Homo sapiens: one gene and its partners. The protein of the gene in region 3 interacts with the protein of the main gene of each other region in a biochemical or structural test. Each region holds a gene or a part of one and is shown on either strand. Other genes may lie near its edges. The genes, in order: PALS2, SNTG2 and ABCA1.

What was found.
Region 1: the proteins of ABCA1 (region 3) and PALS2 interact in a test that uses a peptide from one of them, tested with the Homo sapiens proteins (one large-scale study listed by IntAct).
Region 2: the proteins of ABCA1 (region 3) and SNTG2 interact in a test that uses a peptide from one of them, tested with the Homo sapiens proteins (one large-scale study listed by IntAct).

Annotation. Positions count from the first base shown.
Region 1 is NC_000007.14:24,646,298-24,649,951, reverse strand, and holds part of PALS2 (protein PALS2), read right to left. Parts: intron 341-3,654; coding exon 188-340; intron 1-187.
Region 2 is NC_000002.12:957,223-960,876, reverse strand, and holds part of SNTG2 (gamma-2-syntrophin), read right to left. Parts: intron 1-3,654. UniProt on the Homo sapiens protein: Adapter protein that binds to and probably organizes the subcellular localization of a variety of proteins. May link various receptors to the actin cytoskeleton and the dystrophin glycoprotein complex.
Region 3 is NC_000009.12:104,785,069-104,788,722, forward strand, and holds part of ABCA1 (phospholipid-transporting ATPase ABCA1), read right to left. Parts: exon of another isoform or gene 3,500-3,654; coding exon 3,358-3,499; exon of another isoform or gene 2,987-3,357; coding exon 2,852-2,986; exon of another isoform or gene 2,549-2,851; intron 1,909-2,548; coding exon 1,805-1,908; intron 1,323-1,804; coding exon 1,230-1,322; intron 572-1,229; coding exon 328-571; intron 1-327. UniProt on the Homo sapiens protein: Catalyzes the translocation of specific phospholipids from the cytoplasmic to the extracellular/lumenal leaflet of membrane coupled to the hydrolysis of ATP.

The DNA of each region.
Region 1 (3,654 bases), on a different chromosome or scaffold from region 3:
ATTTTAGTTAAATTTTGCAGGCTAAACCAAGTTGAGAAAGCATCAGCTGTGTCTTTATACACAGGCCAAACAAGAATACAGTTTTCATAACATTATGAAAAGGAAAAAAAATGAAACAGAGTAGTGACTGAACCACAAATTATGTCATATTTCAGATTTAATAGGGTACTGATTTATCTGTACTCACCAGTGGTTCCCCAGCTCTTTTGTGAATACCAAGAATACGAATGGCATCTACTGGTAATAACTGATTATTGATAGAAGAATTATTCATTTCTGGGCTTGATGGAGGTGAATCATAACACTTTGATGCCACAATATCATGGGCCTCCAACAGTGACTATAAGGAGTCAAAATAGCCTGTGGTTATTTATGATATGTGGATGAAATTTGTTACTAAAAGTACTTTGTTATTTCATTATTCCAATGGAGTACTAAAAATTTCCAAGGCACATGGTATTAAATTCCCAAATATCAGGTTGATCAAATAAATATATAATTTTTAAGAGATATAAAAATATATAGTTTTATTATCATCAAACAATATTATATTCCTTCTTTGAGATATGAAGAGATATTAGTGATGCTTTTTAAAAACTGGCAAGTTCACTGGAAACTGAACCTAGGTTTCCAGTCTGGTGCAATGAAGGTACTGGGTTTTATTGCCACCACTGTCATCATATCATTCAATATTTACCATCAATCCTATTTACTAAAATACCATAAAAATTCAAATTCAAATGACATTTTTACCTAACATTGCTATGTTAGTAATATGATATACTTTTTATATGTAGAAAACGTCTGTTAAAAGATGTCCAACAGAAAATGGATAAATATTAGCATCTTATATCAGTGACAAAAAATTTTATATTACCAATAAAGGTTTTAGTTTATAAAAGGAACATTTTTTGAGCAAAAAAACAAGTCAGTAATAGTCCCGAATATAACGTATTTTTTTTACCTCCTATACTTACTATGTATGTGCTACCAGCATGGGTGGTTTTGATCTAGCTTTCTAGGAATTGCTTTTTTTTTTTCTTTTTTGAGACAGAGTCTCACTCTGTCACCTAGGCTGGAGTGCAGTGGTGTGATCTCGGCTCACTGCAACCCCCACTTCCTGGGTTCAAGTGATTCTCCTGCCTCAGCCTCCCAAGTAGCTGGGACTACAGGCGCATGCCACCATGCCCAGCTAATTTTTTGTATTTTTAGTAGAGACGGGGTTTCACCGTGTTAGCTAGGATGGTCTCGATCTCCTGACCTCATGATCCGCCCACCTCGGCCTCCCAAGGAATTTCTTAATTAATACTAAAATGTTAAATTTTTTTTCATTTCTTATCCTAAAAGAATAATTTTTAGGGCAGGCGCGGTGGCTCATGCCTGTAATACCAGCAGTTTGGGAGGCCGAGGCAGGTGGATCATGTGAGGTCAGGAGTTCAAGACTAGCCTGGCCAACATGGCAACACTCTGTCTCTACTAAAAACACAAAAAATTAGCTGGGCGTGGTGGTGTGTGCCTGTAATCCCAGCTACTCGGGAGGCTGAGGCAGGAGAACTGCTTGAACCCGGGAGGCAGAGGTTGCAGTGAGCCGAGATTGCACCATTGTACTCCAGCCTGGGCAACAAGAGTGAAACTCTGTCTCAAAAAAAAAAAAAAAAAAAAGAATAATTTTTACTGCAACTGTGCATATTCAACATAAAGATAAGTTAACATTCTTGAGGGGCTGGATAGAATTCAAGTTCAAAAACAATAAATCAAAATAGAAAGAAGCAAATATTAACAGGTTCGGGAAAAAAGCAATCAGGATAATTGGTAATTTCTGGTCATTTCATAAAACAATTTGTGAAACACTGGAGAAAAAAATTCAATAAAACAACTCATAAATCCATATGTAAGGATTCTTCCTATAAATGCTGGAAGTTGCTAACCTGCGCTGCTTAGTTTTCCACCCTATATCCTCCTTTGGCAGTTTCATTTACTCCTGTGACTTGAGCCACTACTTATGCATTGACAACTCTTAAATTTCTATCTCTAGTTCAGAAATCTCATGTGCTTCAGATTTTTATAGTAAAAATTTGCCCACAACTCGTCAAAGTCACGGCAATTTGAAAATCAAAAGTAGGGATTGTAAAAGATTAAAACACTGAATAAAAAATCCATAGATCCACAATGCTATTTAAAAAAAGACTGAAAAAACTCATTTGTTACCACTTGAAACTGCAATTTTAAACAGCTCTTCACTTTGAAACTTAGTAAAAGGAAGGATCAAGTACATTCCTGCCTCTTCAGTAGAAATGCACTAAGCAGCCCAGTTGATGAGAAGCTCTACATTATGGAAGAATACTAGCTAATAATGTAGAACAGAAAAACGTCATTTTGCAACCTCTAATGAAAATTCTGATTTACAACCCAAAAGCTAGAATAAGATGAGAAATAACAAAAATTAGAGCTGAGCTGAAGAAAACTGAGACACAAAAAACCTTCCAAAAGATCAATGAGGCTGGGCATGATATGATGGCTCACGCCTGTAATCCCAGCACTTTGGGAGGCCGAGGTGGGCAGATCACCTGAGGTCAGGAGTTCAAGACCAGCCTGGCCAACATAGTGAAACACTGTCTCTACTAAAAATACAAAAATTAGCTGGGTGTCACGGCACGTGACTGCCTAGTCCCAGCTACTTGGGAGGCTGAGGCAGGAGAATTGCTTGAACCTGGGAGGTGGAGGCTGCAGAGAACCGAGATCGTGCCACTGCACTCCAGCCTGGACAACACAGTGACTCCATCTCAAAAAAAAAAAAAAATTAATTAAATTAAATTAAAACAACAACAACAACAACAAAAAATCAGAATCCAGGAGTTGGGTTTTTGAAAAAATTAATAGACAAGCCACTAGCTAGACTAATAAAGAAGAAAAGAGAGGAGAGCCAAATAAACACAATTAGAAATGATGAAGGGAATGTTACTACTGAACCCACAGAAATAAAAACAACCATGAGAAACTACTATGAACACTTCCATGCACACAAACCAGAAAACCTAGAAGAGAGATAAATTCCTAGACATATACAACCTCCGAAGACTGAGCCAGGAATAAATTGATTCCCTGCATAGACCAATAACAACCTCCGAAATTGAATCAGTAATAAATAGTTTATCAACCAAAAAAAGCCTGGGACCTGATGGATTCACAGCTGAATGCTATCAGATGTACAAATAAGAGATGGTACCATTCCTACAGAAAAGCTATTCCAAAAAACTGAGGAGGAACTCCTCCCCAACTAATTCTATGAGGGCAGCCTCATCTTTATATCAAAACCTGGCAGAAACACAACAGAAAAAGAAAACTTTAGGCCAATATCCTTGACAAACATTAATGTCAAAATCCTCAACAAAATACTTGCAAACCAAATCAATCGGCACATCAAAAAGCTAATCCACCATGATCAAGTAGGCTTCATCCCCAGAATGCAAGGTCTGTTCAACATTTGCAAATCAATAAATGTGATTCATCACATAAACAGAACTAAAGACAAAAACTACATAATTACCTCAATAGAGCAGAAAAGGCTTCCAATAAAATTCAACAACCCTTCATGTTAAAAATTATCAATTAACTAGGTATTAAAGGAACATACCTCAAAATAATAAGAGCCAT
Region 2 (3,654 bases), on a different chromosome or scaffold from region 3:
AGGAGCACCCCCTTCAGAACCAACAGCCATGCCCGGGAACCCTCAGAGCTCACCGTGCTCCCATGAACAGGCATTAGGAGCACCCCCTTCAGAACCTACAGCCGTGCGTGGGAACCCTCAGAGCTCACCGTGCTCCCATGAGCAGGCAGTAGGAGCACCCCCTTCAGAACCTAGGAACCCTCAGAGCTCACCATGCTCCCATGAGCAGGCAGTAGGAGCACCCCCTTCAGAACCTACAGCCATGCCCGGGAACCCTCAGAGCTCACCGTGCTCCCATGAGCAGGCAGTAGGAGCACCCCCTTCAGAACCTATAGCCGTGCCCCGGAACCCTCAGAGCTCACCGTGCTCCCAGCTCCTCCACGAGGGCAGAGTCCTCTGTCTGCATCCAGCTGAACCCTGAGTTCCAGGGCTCACCTGGGAGACAACAGGAATCCAATCTCACCGATGAGAAAATAAGGCACACATGACCCTACCCTGAAAAGCATCGTGCACTGAAGCATTCCCAACAAAGGAGAGAACAAAGGAGAACAGGCAGCCCGAGCTCTCGGGAGAACTGTGGGGCCCAGAAGCCCAGCATTCCCCACTGTGGGATCCTACCAGGGAACAGGCCTGGCTATCAGCTGGGATTCCTAAGCAACACTGTCACCCTAGTCACAGACGCCTGAGCCAGTGCAGCAAGGACAGGTGCTGCTTTCCAGACAGAAGGGCAAAGGACCGTGTCATTAACAGAGCCCCCTCCTACGGGAACACCTGCCCGAAGCCTCTCCACTGATACAGAAGAACCTTAAGCAGGGGGATGATGGTAATTGATGGATATTTCTTAGCAAACTATGAAAATTATCATTTTATAATGAGAATTCTAAAAAGCAGGATAGAAAATTCTATCTTGAGGATGAGTTTAACTTACAGAATATACACCAGAAAAAGCCAGAAGGAAATCTATGAGCTGCTAGATAGGTATAGACCAGGTCACAGGAACTTTCCTTCCTTGTATTTTTCCATCTCATATTCACTTTCAGTACTGAGATACGGATACCATGCCACTATTCATACAAACATCAAAGGAATAAAGGAAATGTATTTACTCCAAAGAAGGGGATAGGAAGATTCAAATCACATCCCCAAAGGTTCCCTCCATCTGCACAGCGGCACCCGAGATGCAGCCTCCAGCCCCGGGTCACAAAGGCAAGGCCTGCACGATGCAATTCTGTGACACTGGTCTGCTCCGTTCACCTTCTCCATTCAGCCCAAGGCCAGTAAAGCAAAGGCCGCCCTGAGACTTTGCACAGCCCACTGCGGGAACACCACACCCCCAGGCAGCCCCCTGCACCAGGCGACCCTAGCACAGCTGAACCCTGGACCTCCCCCCGACTCCAGGCCTCCCTGACTCCCTTCCTCCTGCCAACATGGAAATTACAAATCTAAAAGCATTCTGATTCCACCCTGATTAAAACCAAAAGAATCTGTAGGTCACGACAAAATTTGATAAAGCTTTGGAAGAAAATAATTGCAATACATAAAGCTCATAGCATTTTCATAGATCTGTGCTGGTCCTCTCCTCAATTCAATAAGGAAGAGTTGCATAAAAGAATATTTACATCCCAGCGCTTACAAAGCACGTAATTCACATATGCAGCTGTTTCCTAGTGGGTTTGTATCTTGTTCTGATAGGAAAGCTTTCAGTTTACTTCCTTTTTTCAGCTACTAGATTTTCCTCTTTATTCGATTACTAAATTTACAATATTATTCAACATAGAAATGAATTTTTTAAATATAATTAAACCTTATATAAGTGTTATACATTACAAAATATATTACAATTTGTTCTATTTCATTTTGTTGCTACAAAGAACAAATGTATTTTATATACAGAGAAAAAGTGGTCTTATCTGTGTGTGAGTCCTTATCCTTTATTACCTTTTGTTATTAGCAGTTTCAGAGTTTGGTTCTAATTTCTTAACTCTTACCCAAGCATCATTGTTTTAGATATCGTACTATCCCAAAATTTTGACTGTCATAAGGCATGTTTGATACTATAACTCCTAACATCAAAATATTAAACTATGTAAGAAATAGTACATTTTACTGTACTACATCTAGAAAGCTAAAATAGAAAATAATTTGGAAGTCCACACAATTTTTTTCATATCTCTCTGGATTTCAAATGAACCACTTTAAAAAAAAAGACCATTTATTTAGATTATAATGTATTTTGGTTACAAATTCATGTTCTCAATACCTTTCAAATTCTTAACCCCAATTTAGATAATGGTGACTTTAGAGGTTTTCTTTTTTTTCCTTTTTAAAGCAATTACAGTGTAGGTAATTGACAAAGCTTCTGCTAGTTCAGCTTCAATAAAATGTCATATCTTTGCAGAGTCTTTTTATGAAAAATCCATCTTGAAGCACCAAATCTGGAGAATATCACATAGTACTCTGCATGATCTCAACATCATTTCACTGCTATGTGTGTGGGGAGGGGCTGCATGAGCTGTTGCCATCTACTCGACTTATGAACCTGTTCCCATTTTGTATGACAACCTCAGTTATAAGAAAACAGTTGTATATTCCTCCTGATTCTGATTTCCTAATTCCTGTTGTTATCCTTTTGTCTCACAAGCAATAACCACTTAAAGGAAACGCATTTGGGGCCATTTCTCAGCCTTTGCACGTGGGATAGAGACATCTCTCTCACAGTCAGACGCCCAGGGGCTGCAGCCACCATGCGGACCACACCTCACCTGCCGTCTCTACAGTCTTATGTGTAGGTGGGGAGCATCAGCAGTACCCCAGGGGTGTTAAAGGAACGAAGCCCTCCAAAGAGCTCTTAGTACCTAGTAGATGTTAGCAATTAGGTAAGTTCTAACCTGGGGGTTCTGGGCTCAAATTCCCTACATTTCTAAGAAGATATTCCCTAAAAGCTATATTACTTACCTAAAAAGACTGATTAGCTTCCCACGGCTGCTATGACAACACTTCCTCAAACTTAGTGGCTTAAAACAATGCACATTTATCTTCTCACAGTTCTGGAAGCCAGAAGTCCAGGATCAAATTCCTCCAGAGGCTCCAGGGAGCCTCCTTCCTGCCTCCTCTAGCTCTGGTGGCTGCAGGTGCCCCTGGCCTGTGACTGCATCTCTCCCGTCTCAGTCTCAGTCTCAGTCTCAGTACCAGTCTCGCCTTCCATGTGCCGGAAGACAAATGTTGCCCGACCTCATCTATAGAAGAGGGAACACATTGTAGCTGCCCTGTGCTGTTTCGTGTCTGCTTGTCTAGAATTTGCCTCTCAGGTAGTCAGGGCCCCACTGGCCTGGTCTGAGAGGTGTTCTACTCTATTTTTATCTTTAGCTTCCAGCTCAGTGTGTGGCAATTAATAGGTACTCAATCATTCTTCTCTAAATTCTGTGTGTCTGTGTCTGCACGTACGTAAGGTGCATCATGATAAAGCAATTCTCCAAATGGCACTTAATCATCGCCAAACCCCCAACTTTCAAAAGGAGGCCTGAGACCCAGAGCTACTTCCCACCACCGTTCCCCATCCGTTGCTCCCCCTCAAGCAGGGAGGTGGTAAAATTTCTAGTGTTTCTGAGGAGGTAATACAAAGGCTGGACTTTCTCTATCTACCTTGCTGCAGACCATGATCGTTTTAGGAATAAA
Region 3 (3,654 bases):
AGTGTCAGGACCTATTTGGTACTTTTTTATCTAATTTAAATAGGATTAGGCACCAAGTAAAATGCCTGGCCCATGGTAGGTGCTCACTAAATGGTAGTTTTTATGGTTATTATTACAGTAAATTCTCACAATAATCCTATAGAGTACATAGGCATCATCTCCCTTTTCAGGTTCAGAGAGGTTTAGTAAAAAGCATAGCTAGGAATAGTAGATCAGGAATTCAAGCACCAATTCAAGATACAAACTGCTCTTGGACCTATGGGCGGGAGTGTCGGGGCAGGAATCCACACCCTGAGAAGTAAATCTGTTTTGACACTCAAAGCTTACTTGGTCAAGTGTTGTCTGAGAAACAGAGTAGTCTTCTATGTGGAGTCGCTTTTTGCTCTGGGAGAGGATGCTGAATATCCTGGCCAGAGAAGATAATGAAGATGGAAGCTGGTATTGTAGCATGTTCCGGTGTTTCTCTTTTAGAACACTTCCAGGAAATGCAAGTCCAAAGAAATCCTGGACAGGCTTCAGGTCCGGGTTGGACCCTGCTATTCGTACAACTATTGTATAACCATCTCCAAACCTGAAAGCAGGAAAAAATACCCAAATGGAGGATCTCCAGAAAACTATTTAAAAGAATACTGAACCCTGGGAACCCAACTTGTGCCATGAAAAAGGGCGGCCCCTGGCAGGCCCAGAAATAAGTTTCTGAGAGAAGGAACCAGTTATCATTTACTAAATACTTATTTTATGTGAAGCACCATGCCATGTGCTGTAAATACATGATCTCCTTTAATCCTCACCTGGACCCATGAAGTCTGACAGATGTTACAGAGAAACTGAGGCCCAGGGAGTTAGTCACTTGCCCATGGCTCAGAGCTCATAATTGGTAGGGCCAGGATGCAAACCCATTTGTGTTTGACTCCAAAGCTTGCGCTCTCACCAGTACTGGCACATGTAAATTTTTTTCATTTCATCTATAGCACAAAGCTAGGAGGTAGATCTTCCAGGGAAACTAACTCTTACAGTAGTTAAGTCACTTGCCCAAGAGTCACAGAACCAGTAAATGGTAAAGACAGAATTTGAATGCAGTTCGGACTTCAAAGCCCTCATTCTTTCCACTATACTGTTTTGCTCAGTTTTATTTCCCTTTATGTTAGAGGCACCATTTATATACTCACAAAAGAATAAATATCAAGCCTTCTCACTAGGCACTATCCCAAAGAAATTATCTTTATTACCTATTTTTTAGATGCTGGACACTGCCAAGGCACCTGAACCTTCCATTGACCATGATTGCCATCCTAGTGCAAAGAGCTTCACATTCTTCCATACTGCGGTAAAACAGAAAGAGGTTTTAGTTTTAGAGAGATTCTCTGTAACCATGAGAACATCACCATGACTTCCAGCATTCCAGCTTCCTAGGGAATTGTATTCTGTTACAAGTACATGTGGATATAGGGATGATGCTGTTCAGTGTAGTGGTGTTTACAATTGTGAACAAGTTGGAAATAATCCAAATGTCTACAAAAGGGGGAATAGTTAAATAAGAGTATATCCTAATGGAATACTATCCAGCTATAAGAAATGACACCTAAATGCACTGACTTGGAATAATGTTTACAATATATTAAGTGAAAAAGAGCAGTATTTATACTGGGCTTGCATTTTTGTAAGAATATGCATATATAATTTCAGGTAATAATTGTTTTACTCTTTGCTTTTCTGTATTTTCTAATTTTTACAAAATGATCGCATATTCTACTTGGAAAGTTAAAACATCCCACAGTGAGGAACCCAAGACTTTACTACGGACCTATGAGATGTAAGCACTACTGATCTCCCCTCCTTGACAACACTTAGGGCACAATTCCACAAGAACCGCCGGGCTTTGGGATCCATGCCTGTGGTGGGTTCATCCTGTAATTAGAATAAAATAAGTCTTATTTGCTGGGGGGAAAAAAAATCAAAGATAAATTTGTTTTTAAATGCAGAAGCATCTTTGAAACAGCTTAAATTTTAACTTGCCATTCTAGTTATTTCTTGATGAATCAAAGAATTAGAGTAACTTTCAAATTCATTTGTAAACAAGGTCATTATTATAAATGTCTTATTGATGCAGGAAACTCAAATATTCTGAGTACTTTTTTATGTAATTAAATTTCTCCAAATAAATAGGGAAGGAAAAAGGCCATTTAGTTGTAATTATCTTTTCATGACTGATAAGTATATACAAAACAACTTTTTGTCTGAAACCTCTATTGAAGTCAGTATAAGATTGGGGTGAAATTCCTTTTTTTTTTTAATTCCAGCTCACTCAGATTACCCTAGTATATTGCAACTGTTAGCCTTACAGAAACAAATTCCAGACCGAGGTGGAATACATAAAAGCCTCAAAGGCTTCTTCCCGTAATAACATCAATGCTCTTATCTACAGAAGAAAAAAGGTCAAGGGCCACTTCCCAGTCTGATCTGTTTTTCATCTATCCGTGTGTAAGGAACTATGACCTAGTTGCTACCTTGGGGATTTTAAAGCTGTGTCCACACTCTTCATTTTCAGGGAATGAACACAAAGATGATTAGAAAGAATGTTCCAGAGAAAGATCAAATCACATATCCAGCCTCAATCACGCTAAGAAACAAAGTGCTTGGAGTGCCTCTATTTGGGAGCATCTGCAGGCATGGTACAGCCACCCCAGTGTGTGCCAAGGGAGAAGCTTCCCTCTGCTTTTCCAAGGTTGCTCTGCTGTCCCTGGGGGAAGACAAGCCAATCATACAACAGCCCTGGACATATAGGACTTTTGAACAGTCATGTTTTCCACTCAGGCCAGAACAACAGTTTTCCATCCACAGTTATACTCACCAGAAACACCACAGGAGGCCCGCCGATCAAAGCCATGGCTGTAGAGAGCTTGCGTTTGTTGCCTCCACTATAGTTACCAGCATATTTTTCTCCATACTTCACGAGGCCCAGTTTCCGAATCGCCCACTCACCAACCTACAGTGATAAAAAGCACCTTGACTTTGGTCTGGCTTGGGAATTTTATCATGCTGTCCTACACATACATGTATGAAAGTTCTTTCACTGAGTAGGACTAGATTCTATAATCATAACCTGACAACTGGTGAGGAGCCAAAGCAGGGAGAAGGGACTCGTGTGGTGGGAGCAGCACTCCCTCTCTGCCCACCCAGCCCTGCCCCACCACCGTTACAGGTTTCCACCCTGAAAGCAGATACAAAGAACCAGCATTTTGTGCTGCTGCATTCATGAGGAAAAACAGCCTGAAGTCAATGCGTGTGGAAAAGCCATAAGGTATATATTGTCAGGATGCCAAAGGAGACAGGCTGGCTTTCAGGTGCCCACAGTACCTTGCCAACTTCTTTCTCTGGGACTCCTCTCAAAAGGGCAAAGAACTCCACGTGTTCTCTCCCAGTCAACAGCTCTGTGATGGCATCAAACTGAGGGCAGTAGCCCATGTTCTGATGTACTTCATGGATGTTTGATAAGATACTGCAAAGGACAAGAAAACTACTTAGATTTTAAGCAGGTAGAGATACTCTGGTTAGACAATCTGGCCTAATGTTCCTGTAAAGTATGCTTCTCCATTACAAAGATACCAATACATCTGCTGCTACTTGAAAGCACAGCCTTTCTGCCCCCAGGAT